Linked DNA regions of Homo sapiens. The protein of the gene in region 2 purifies or fractionates together with the protein of the main gene of each other region. This does not show direct contact. Each region holds a gene or a part of one and is shown on either strand. Other genes may lie near its edges. The genes, in order: CTSB, PTPN18 and TIPRL.

Region 1 (3,655 bases), on a different chromosome or scaffold from region 2:
TCAGGTCCTCGGTAAACATAACTCTGGATAAAGGAAGGTCTTCATTACAAGCTCTGATCCCACAACTCCCTCCCCAATCCCTGCAAAGGCCACTTTGGCTGGGCCACACTCCCCTAACAAGGAAATGAGCACAAGACATGCCGAAGAAGGCTGCAGACAGGTGTCCTTGGTAATTTCATAAAACAAAAGGAAATTCTGTTGCTCAATGCACCTTTTGATTTTTTTTTTGGGTGGGACGGGAGGGTGGGAGTGGACAGAATTTCACTGTGTCATCCAGGCTGGAGTGCAGTGGCGAGATCTCTGCCCACTGCAACCTCTGCCTCCTGAGTTCAATCGATTCTCGTGCCTCAGCCTCCTGAGTAGCTGGGATTACAGGCATGCACCACCACACCCGGCTAATTTTTGTATTTTTAGTAAAGACAGGGTTTCACCATGTTGGCCAGGCTGGTCTTAAACTCCTGGCTTCAAATGATCTGCCTGCCTTGGCCTCCCAAAGTGCTGGGATTACAGGCATGATCCACCACACCTGGCCTGACTTGCGATATTGTACGCTTCTTTCTAGGCTTATGTAATGGATTTTTTAAGATGAATTTATCCACAAATTATAAACTCATTTTTAAATAAGTTTATTCAGTCCAGATAGTGTTTCTTGCCCTGCTCTCCTGCCTCAACCTCTGCCCAGGATCCTCTCATCATTTCTCATATCATCCCCATTGTGCAGAAGGCAGTGTCGTGCAACTTAACTACCCCATCCTCACGTGGGAAGTGGCATCATCTCAGCTCACCGCAACCTCTGCCTCCCGGGTTCATGCGATTCTCTAGCCTCAGCCTCCCGAGTAGCTGGGATTACAGGCGCCCGCCACCACGCCTGGCAAAGTTTTTTATTTTTAGTAGAGACGGGGTTTCATCATGTTGGTCAGACTGGTCTCGAACTCCTGACCTCAGGTGATCCGCTTGCCTTGGCATCCCAAAGTGCTGGGATTACAGGCGTGAGCCACCATACTTGGCCTCATCTGGCTTTTCTTAGATTTCCCTTAAATTACTCAAGATTGAGTCTGCCCACATAGTGGGGACCCAGACCTTGTCTGTCACATCTGCGGCTGAGACACCTTGGAGAAGCACAATAGAAAACACTGGGGGTGGCTCATGCCGGTAATCCCAGCACTCTGGGATGCCGAGTTGGGCAGATGACTTGCTGAGGCCAAGAGTTCGAGACGAGCCTGGCCAGTATGGCGAAACCCAGTCTCTACTAAAAATACAAATATTAGCCGTGCACGGTGGTGCAAGCCTGTGGCCCCAGCTACTCAGGAGGCTGTGGCATGAGAATCGCTTGAACCCGGGAGACAGAGTTTGCAGTGAGCCAAGATCGTGCCACTGCACTCCAGCCTGGGTGACAGAGTGAGACTCTCTCAAAAACCAAAAAAAAGCACCAGCATCTTCTCTACTAATAACTTGAGAAGGAAAAAATAAAATAAAAAGAGAAAGTAATATAAAAATGAAAAGAAACAAGTACTGTACCTCAAGCGGTGTCGGCAGCCCTGGGCAGCATGAGCCCTGCGGACGCCAGAGAGGCCTTCACTCTCCCACTTCCCACTGCCCCAAACCAACGCCTGCCACTCACATTACAGCGGTGCAGAGGAGCAGGCACTCACCTCTGGGGTGGCTTGGGCCCACCCAGGAAGGTACCACATAGCCTCTTCAAGTAGCTCATGTCCACGTTGTAGAAGTTGTGCCCGGCCTGGAAGAGAGTCACCCACTGACTGAAGGGTCTCCCGGGATGGCGGTGGATGGGCACGCTGCCCACACACGAAGCCCAACCCAGGGAAAACCAGAGACCCTACCCAATTCAAGGGCCCAAGGGTTGGGGGGCACTGGGGAACAGCCCAGAGTGACACACGGGCAGAGTGGGTGTCTCCCCTGATCTGCTCCCATTTGCTGACAATCAGAGACCCTCTCCAGCCCTCAACATGGCTCACTCCTCATTCTTGGTTCTCAGTCCGAGGGTCAGGGCTGGGCAGAGACAAAGGGAATCAGGGGCGGGACTGATAAACTGCCACTGTGCCACGGCGGGCGTCACAGGGGCTAGCTGGTTTTGAACACTTCCGAAGCTCACTTACTCCCCCACACACCTCCACGTGCACACAACCATATATTCATACACATGCACACACACTCATGCACACACGTGGGGTATGGGACAAAGGAGGGAGGCGTGGTCCAGAGCCGACATGACTCAGGGTCAGGGCCATTTTTCAACAGTCCAGGACAATGTTCTGTGGGCCACAGTGAGGGCTGGCTTCCCATTCCTGGAGTCAGTGTGCACAGACCGACCTGGGAGGGGACATACATAGGACGCAGCCCCACAGCCTACCTGCCACGTGGTATTCCGTTTGTTGACATAGTTGACCAGCTCATCCGACAGGGGATGGAAAGAGGGCCTGCTCCGGGCATTGGCCAACACCAGCAGGCAGCAGAGGGAGGCCCAGAGCTGCCACATGTTGGAAGCCGGATCCTAGATCCACCTGGAGAGGACAGAGGGCATCAGGACACCTCTCTGTTATGTGGGTCGAGGGCTCACACACACAGGGGCACCGTCTCGGGCATCAGTGGGGACCCCCATGCTCGTCCTGGCCCAGGCGGAGAACTCTTAAGGAGCTGAGGTGTCTATGGGATCCCCGCCCCCCTGCCCGAAGCACGCCATGACCTCGTGTGGGTCCCCGGGGGCCAGGCGGCCAGAGCCCAGAGAGAGAGCCAAGGGGCTGTGCTGGACGAGACCGAGTCCAGGGCCTTCGCTGCTATTTTTAAACGGCCTTTGCATGGATTTGTAGAACAGCTTGAGACACTTTCCCAAGTGAGTGATATGAAACAGTTAAGAGCCTGTCTGTGTGATTACACCCTAAGTGGAGGACCCAGGGGACAGGGAAATGTAAGAAAAGTTACAATCCAGGAGTCCTAGTTTCGACAGGACACAGACAAACAAGCTCGGTGTGGGCTGGTGGAGGTTGAGGCTGAGAGGTGGGGCTGGGCTGGCCATCCACCCACTCCCGGGGCCTCTCTGGTTTTTCCAGTCAGCCAAGGGCTCTGCTTCCGGCTGCGGAGATGAGGCTTCTGAGAAGGAAAACTCTCACCTCGATGCCCCAGCCGTTTGATCTTGCACTGGCTCATGAGTCACAAGCCAGTGCTTTCCAGCTTGAACTCTGAGTCACCCTCCTAAGTGAGCAGCTCAACAAAAGCAATACATGTCTCCTGGGCGCCTGCATCCAGGGCTGGGGAGAGCCGCGGCGCGGGGAGCTGGGTGAGGCAGGGGTTCCTGTCAGTCACTCCAGGGGCTCCCACGGGTGGGTGAGGTGTTCTACCTCCCACAGGTCACAGGTCGTCATGAAAGTCACAGGACTGCGGTGTCAGTGCTTAACAAACTGCCTGGCACCTAGGGGTTCTATCTGAAGAACAATTTAAACTTCATTGTTGCTTAAGCAACAATTCATCTAGGAGAATAAATATATGAGGACAGCAAGATGGCTCTGGAAAAAAGCTTTTTTTTTTTTTTTGAGACAGGGTCTTGGTCTGTGGGCCATGTCACCCAGTCTGGGGTACAGTGGCACAATCTTGGCTCACTGCAGCCTCCACCTCCCAGGTTCTTAGCCTCCCAAGTAGC
Region 2 (3,655 bases):
ACAATATATATCTTTAACTTATAGTCTATAGTCAAATAATATTCTACATTTCATGTAAAATGTCAGAACTTTACTGTAGTATATTTCGATTACCCCTTTCCATGCTTTGTGCTATTGTTACTATATATTATAGTTCTATATATAAAATATACTCCACAGTACACTGCTATTATAGTTGTTTTAGAATATCTTTTTAAACAGCTTTATTGATATACAATTCAGTCATTTAAAGTGTACAGTTCCATCATTTTTCTATATTCCTGAGCTATGCAACTATTACCACAGTAAGATTTTTGTTTTTGTTTTTGTTTTTGTTTTTGAGACGGAGCCTCGCTCTGTCCTCCAGGCTGGAGTGCAATGGCGCGATCTCAGCTCGCTGCAACCTCCGCCTCCCGGGTCCACGCCATTCTCCTGCCTCAGCCTCCCGAGTAGCTAGGACTACAGGCGCCTGCCACCACGCCCGGCTAATTTTTTGTATTTTTAGTAGAGACGGGGTTTCACCGTGTTAGCCAGGATGGTCTCAATCTCCTGACCTCGTGATCCGCCCACCTCAGCCTCCCAAAGTGCTGGGATTACAGGCATGAGCCACCGTGCCCGGCCTACCACAATAAGTTTTTGAACATTTTCATCATTCCATAAAAAAATCCAGGCCAGACATGGTGGCTCATGCCTGTAATCCCAGCACTTTGGGAGGCTGAGACTGGTGGATCACGAGGTCAGGAGATCAAGACCATCCTGGCCAACATAGTGAAACCCCGTCTCTACTAAAAATACAAACATTAGCTGGGCATGGTGGCATGTGCCTGTAATCCCAGCAACTCGGGAGGCTGAGGCAGAAGAATAGCTTGAACCAGGGAGTTGGAGGTTGCAGTGAGCTGAGATTGTGCCACTACACTGCAGCCTGGCCACAGAGCAAGACTGTCTCTCAAAAAAAAAGAAAAAGAAAAGAAATCCTATATCCATTAGCAGTCACTCCCCATTTCCCAGCAACCTCTACAGCCCCAGACAATCCCTAATCTATTTTTGCCTTTATACATTTGCTTACTTTGGACATTTCATATAATTGAATCACATAATATGTAGCCTTTTTTTGCTTAGCATTTTTGTTTTGTTTTGTTTTGTTTGCTGAATACTATTCCATTGAATGGATCTACCACATTTTACTTATTGGTTGACAGAAATTGGGTTCTTTCTACTTTTTGGCTATTATGAACAGTGCTGCTATCAACACTGATATACAAGTCTCTGTGTAGATGTGGGTTTTCATGTCTCTTGGGTATTGCTGGGAATTGCTGGGCTATATGGAAACTCTATTTTTAACATTTTGAGGAAGTGCCAAACTGTTTTCCACAGTGGCAGCATCATTTTACATTTCCACGGCAATGTTTGAGGGTCCCCATTTCTTCTCCCTGATGCTTGTTACTGTCTTTTTTTTTTTTTTAATTATAGCCATCCTAGGGGTTGTGAAGTGGTATGCCATTGTGTCTTTCTTTAAATTATGTGGTAAAATATACATAACATAAAATTTGCCAGTTTATAGGTGCTGTGAGGAATGTTAAAAATAATTTTGCCATTTAAACCATTTCAAGTGTACAATTCAATTGAATTAAGTACATTCACAATGGATTAACCATTCCTACTGTCTATTTTCAGAACATGTTCATCATCCCAAACAGAAATTCTGTATTCATTAAACAATAACTCCCCATTCCCCCATTTCCAGGTAACCTCTATTCTCCTTTCTGTCCCTATGAATTTGCCTATTCTAGGTACCTCATGCAAGTGGAATCAGGAATACACTAATATACAATACTTGTCCTTTTTTCAAGGTTCATCCATGTTGCAGTGTGTATCAGAATTTCACTGTTTTCAAGGCCAAATAATATTTCATTGTATGTATATATCACATTTTGTTTATCCATTCGCCTGTTGGACATCTGGGTTGTTTGTACCTTTTGACTATTGTAAATAAGGCGGCTACAAACATTGGTATACAGGCTGGACACAGTGGCTCACGCCTGTAATCCCAGCACTTTGGGAGGCCGAAGCAGGCAGATCACGAGGTCAGGAGATCGAGACCAGCCTGGCTAACACGATGAAATCCCACCTCTACTAAAAATACAAAAAATTAGCCAGGCGTGGTGGCAGCCGCCTGTAGTCCCAGCTACTCGGGAGGCTGAGGCAAGAGAATGGTGTGAACCCATGAGGCGGAGCTTGCAGTGAGCCGAGATCGCACCACCGCACTCCAGCCTGGGCGACAGAGCGAGACTCCGTCTCAAAACAACAACAACAACAACAACAAAAAATTGGTATACTAGTATCTGTTTGAATCCCTGTTTTCAGTTCCCTGGGTATACACCTAGCATGGAATTGCTGGATCATATGATAACGCTATGTTCAACATTTTGTTTTCCACAGTGGCTGTACCATTTTACGTTCCCATCAGCAGAGAGAGAGAGAGGGAGGGAGGGACATGTGTAGTTTAATGACAGGGATATGGTCTGCATTGTTAAGACTATCTTGTCATTGTGTAAACATCATAGAGTATACTTACACAAACATAGATAGTATATACATTTTTTATTTATATATTTTTCATATGGAAAACCAAATGTCCCAGCACCATTACTGAGTATCAATCATTTCCCCAACTTAATATGCAGTGTCAATATCAAGTGCCATGTATCAGGTTTCTACATATGCTCCATTATAATCTATGGCACCACCATTGTATATGTGGTCTGTTGTTAACCAAAACATCATTATGTGGCATATGACAATGACATATATGCCATCCTAATGAGTGGGAAGTGGTACCTCATTGTGGTTTTGGTTTTCATGTGCTTATTCGTCCATTTGTATATCTTCTCTGGCCAAATGTCTATTCATGTCATTTATTCATTTTAAAATTGGGCTATTTGGGGTTGTCTTTTTATTATTGAGTTGTAAGCGTTATTCTGTATATAAGTCCCTTATCAGTACATGATTTAAAATGTCTTTCCCATTCTGTGGGTTGTCATTCCACTTTCTTGATGGTGTGTTTTGAAGCACAAACATTTTGTGAAACTTTAATTCCAATCTATTGTGTTGCTGTGCTTTTGGTGTATCTGAGAAGTCATTGTCTAATCAGAGGTCATAAAGACTTACTCCTGTTCTTCCTTCTAAGTGTTTTATAGTTTTCTTGCTTACAGTTAGGTCTCAGATTTACTTTGAATGAACTTTTGTATGTGATGTGAGATAGGGGTCCACATTCACTCTTTTGCATGTGACTATCCAGTTGTTCCAGCACCATTTGTTGAAAAGACTATGCTTTGCCCATTGAACCGTCTTGGCCCCTTTGTTGAAAATTAATTGGCCATAAATATAAGGGTTTATTTCTGAACTCTCAATTTTATTAAGCTGATTGATGTGTTTATCCTTGTGCCAGTGTAACATAGTTTTGATTATTATACCTTTGTAGAAGTTCTGAAATCAGGAAGTATGAGTCTTCCAAATTTGTTCTTTTTTCCAAGATTGTTTTGGCTATTTTGGGTAGGTCCCCTGCTGTGCAGAAGAGTTAAACATGGCAAGCATAAATGTTTATGCTTAGAAAGGCCTTCCTGTAAGGTTGACTCTTGGGTGGCCTCTAGAAACCTAGGTTTCTGATAACAGTGGC
Region 3 (3,655 bases), on a different chromosome or scaffold from region 2:
AGGAGTTCAAGACCTGCCTGGACAACATGGTGTAACCCCGCCTCTACTAGAAATACAAAAAAAATTATCTGGGGGTGGTGGTGCAGGCCTGTAATCCCAGCTACTCTGAAGGCTGAGGCACGAGAATCACTTGAACTTGGGAGGTAGAGGTTGCAGTACGCTGAGATCGTGCCACTGTGCTCCAGCCTGGATGACAGAGTAAGACTCCGTCCCCCACCCTCCGCCAAAAAAAAAAAAATGCCTTTTTTTATATGACAAAAGGAAGACTTACCCTCACCAATCCCAAATTTTTCTGTGATGCATTATCATAGATTGTAAAAACCACTAAGGTGCTAAATAAATTGGTTGGGTAAAATATTGGATTAAAGAAGCTCTTCTAATGAATATTTAAGGCACCTTAAAACCACAGGAGCTTCCTGTCTTCTCTCCTTGTAACTAGTTATACCTGTTTTTAAGTGGGAAGCTTGATGATGTTAGAAATAGGGCATTTTCAGGCCGGGCGCGGTGACTCACGCCTGTAATCCCAGCATTTTGGGAGACCGAGGCAGGTGGATCACCTGAGGTCAGGAGTTCGAGACCAGCCTGGCCAACATGGTGAAACCCTGTTTCTACTAAAAATACAAAAATTAGCCGGGCATGGTGGCACGTGCCTGTAATCCCAGCTCCTAGGAAGGCTGAAACAGGAGGATTGCTTGAATCTGGGAGGCGGAAGTTGCAGTGAGCCAAGATCGTGCCATTGCACTCCAACCTGGGCAACAGAGCGAGACTCCGTCTCAAAAAAAAAAGAGGGCATTTTGGCCTATGTTTAAGAAACTCTATATTTAGAACACTGAAGGACTGTAAATTAGTAACAGTGATTCTTTTACATATATGAGTGGAATATTTTATAGGACTGCCACATTTTTCCAGATATATTGGTTAGAATCCACAGACTCACATATTATTTCACATTTGGTATGCATTATTCAAGTTAAAACTTATTTTATGGAATCTTATGGAATATATATTCCAATTACAGTTTATTGTATCTAATCTTTTAAGTATTTAATATTTTCTATCTCCTAATAACAAAGAATAAATTTTACTTAAAATTATGATGAAAGTTAACATTGTTAGTCCTGAAGACCATTGTTAACATTGTGCAGTCCTGAAGACCTGCACCTCAAAGTTAGATCACTGATATGTGCACACAGAAATACACGTTTAGATGTAATAAATATACAATGTGTGTCCAGTTTTTTTCTTACTATTTTATCATAAGCATTTTTTCATATTATTATAGTCTCTCTTTAAACATTTGTAATGGTTCCATAATATTTCATCATATGGATATACTTTGGTTTGCATAATCATTTGTTGCTTTATAATGAAACATTCAGAGTATTTCTTTTTCATGATTATAAGTAAAGCCATTATAAGTATTAATGTGTATAATATTTTTCTGTACTTGGAATTATTCTTTAGTACAGGTATTCTAAAACTGATACTTTGGGTCATAAGTGTGTAAATTATGTTAAATTCCTGTGATTTTTTTTTTTTTTTGCTTGATTGTTGCCCCAGGGTGAAATGTAAATTGACACAATCCTTCTGAAAGTCTGTGTAGGCAAGTGCTGAGTTCCCTCATCAGTGTCAGGTGCTTTTGCTTTTTTCATCACCACGTTTTGAAACTTTTAACAATTGAGAATTTTAATGGAAAAATTATTTTCCTACAAGAGACAGTATCTTTAATTGCTTTGCTATCTTTTCTTCATACCCTCATGATATATATTATAGTAATATCTGTGTGCTATATATTATAGTAGTATAATAAGCTATTATATTACGTATTTGTATATTTATCTTATTTAGCCCACTACTTAGTACAGTGCCATATGATGATGAAAGAATGGATGATGAAAGCATTTTATAGACCTTGCAAATATATCATATTGATTAAATCATGTGCTGTGTAACTCATTCAGCAAGTAGGAAGAATTCTGTTGGGATGGAAAAGAAACAAAAATGCCAACAGCGATATAAAATTATCTCACCCGACTTTTGGTTACGTATAGATTAGCCGATGAATTACATATGCCATCTCTCCCTGAAATGATGTTTGGAGACAACGTTTTAAGAATCCAGCATGGGTCTGGCTTTGGAATTGAGTTCAATGCTACAGATGCGTTAAGATGTGTAAACAACTACCAAGGAATGCTTAAAGTGGCCTGTGCTGAAGAGTGGCAAGAAAGCAGGTGAGAATCCGGTCAATTAGGTTAAACAAAAAAGGTAATTAGGTTAAACAAAAGAGAAAAGACTTGAAAAAATATTCAGTAATGATACGTGTGTGTTGTTAGAATGAAGGGCTGGTATTATTAAACTTGAGAGTTGTATCATTCTAGAATTCGTTTTTCTCAGACATAAAAATGGAAGTTAATTACCCCACTGCTTGAATACTTGTTAAAGTGAATTACAACTGAGCTGAGCTATGTACGTTTTCGATTTTTCAGTGTTCCTTACTGAAGAGGCAGTAGGCTATACTTAATGTTCCTGTTTTTAAGAAAAAATGTTTACTTATGATATGCTTAATAAATACCCTATTTGAGAAGCATTGAAATTAAGACAACATGTTTTTCTTTGATAGTCAAATCAGCAATTATTTACTTTGTGCCTAATATGTACTAAGTACCTTAGATGATACAAATAAGTATAAACCTTTAAACCATGTCCTCAGGCTGTATACAGACTAATTGAAAAGACTACATCAGTACATGACAAGTTAAATAATAAATGCAGAAAAACTGTAAGAAAAACCTTGTACTGGTGAATTATAACAAGTGTATATATTTAATAGGATATGTTATTATAGAATATAATTTGATGTGATATATAAATACAGATAATCTCTATTCTGCATCACTGAATCTGATCCTTCTCATTTTGGTATTTGAGGACGGAGGGTGAACACTCCAAAGAGGTTATTAAACCATATGATTGGACCTATACAACAGATTATAAGGGAACCTTACTTGGAGAATCTCTTAAGTTAAAGGTAAATCTTACTTTTTTCTTTCATGAGTCATTGATTGTCTTGGACAGTCTGAGCATTAGAACTTTCTAGTAACGGGTTATTTTTTGCAACTATTTTTATCGTCCTTGTTTTCTGTTGTGGCATTCCTCAGAACCTAATGTGAGGGGGTTTTGCTTGTTGACTTATCAGTAGAAAATAAAAGACGGCATTAGTGGAAAAATTTATTTTTAAAAGTGTAGTTGGTGGCAACGGCAGACGGCCTTGTTGTTATCATTATCACTATCAAGAAACATTAAAATGTGTTTCGGGCCTTGGTAATGTATTACATGATTTAGACAGAACCTGCTAGCTTGTAGCTCACAAGTTTATAGATGAACAAATATATGAGCAAAAAGAACTTCTGGTTAGACAAAGTAGGTTTATGCCCTGTCTGCCCTGAGTATGAACCTGAAATGACTTTAGGAAGTTACTTAATTTGAGTCTCAGTTTTATCAATAAATTGGGTAAACAGAAATATCTACCTCAAAGCAGAGTTTTGATGTGAAATAATTTATGGGAAGCTCTCAATAAATTCTAAAGCTCTATATTAGTATTAAGTCCTGTGTGTGTAAGCCCTGCTTGAGAAGAGATTGGGGCCAGGCGCAGTGG

What was found.
Region 1: the proteins of PTPN18 (region 2) and CTSB purify together in Homo sapiens (affinity purification with mass spectrometry, with the first as the bait; one large-scale study listed by BioGRID). This does not show direct contact.
Region 3: the proteins of PTPN18 (region 2) and TIPRL purify together in Homo sapiens (affinity purification with mass spectrometry; one large-scale study listed by BioGRID and IntAct). This does not show direct contact.

The regions. Positions count from the first base shown.
Region 1 is NC_000008.11:11,850,958-11,854,612, forward strand, and holds part of CTSB (cathepsin B isoform 1 preproprotein), read right to left. Parts: intron 2,523-3,655; 5' UTR 2,498-2,522; coding exon 2,372-2,497; intron 1,739-2,371; coding exon 1,653-1,738; intron 24-1,652; coding exon 1-23. UniProt on the Homo sapiens protein: Thiol protease which is believed to participate in intracellular degradation and turnover of proteins. Cleaves matrix extracellular phosphoglycoprotein MEPE. Involved in the solubilization of cross-linked TG/thyroglobulin in the thyroid follicle lumen.
Region 2 is NC_000002.12:130,362,519-130,366,173, forward strand, and holds part of PTPN18 (tyrosine-protein phosphatase non-receptor type 18), read left to right. Parts: intron 1-3,655. UniProt on the Homo sapiens protein: Differentially dephosphorylate autophosphorylated tyrosine kinases which are known to be overexpressed in tumor tissues.
Region 3 is NC_000001.11:168,181,851-168,185,505, forward strand, and holds part of TIPRL (TIP41-like protein), read left to right. Parts: intron 1-2,051; coding exon 2,052-2,231; intron 2,232-2,928; coding exon 2,929-3,028; intron 3,029-3,655. UniProt on the Homo sapiens protein: May be a allosteric regulator of serine/threonine-protein phosphatase 2A (PP2A). Isoform 1 inhibits catalytic activity of the PP2A(D) core complex in vitro. The PP2A(C):TIPRL complex does not show phosphatase activity.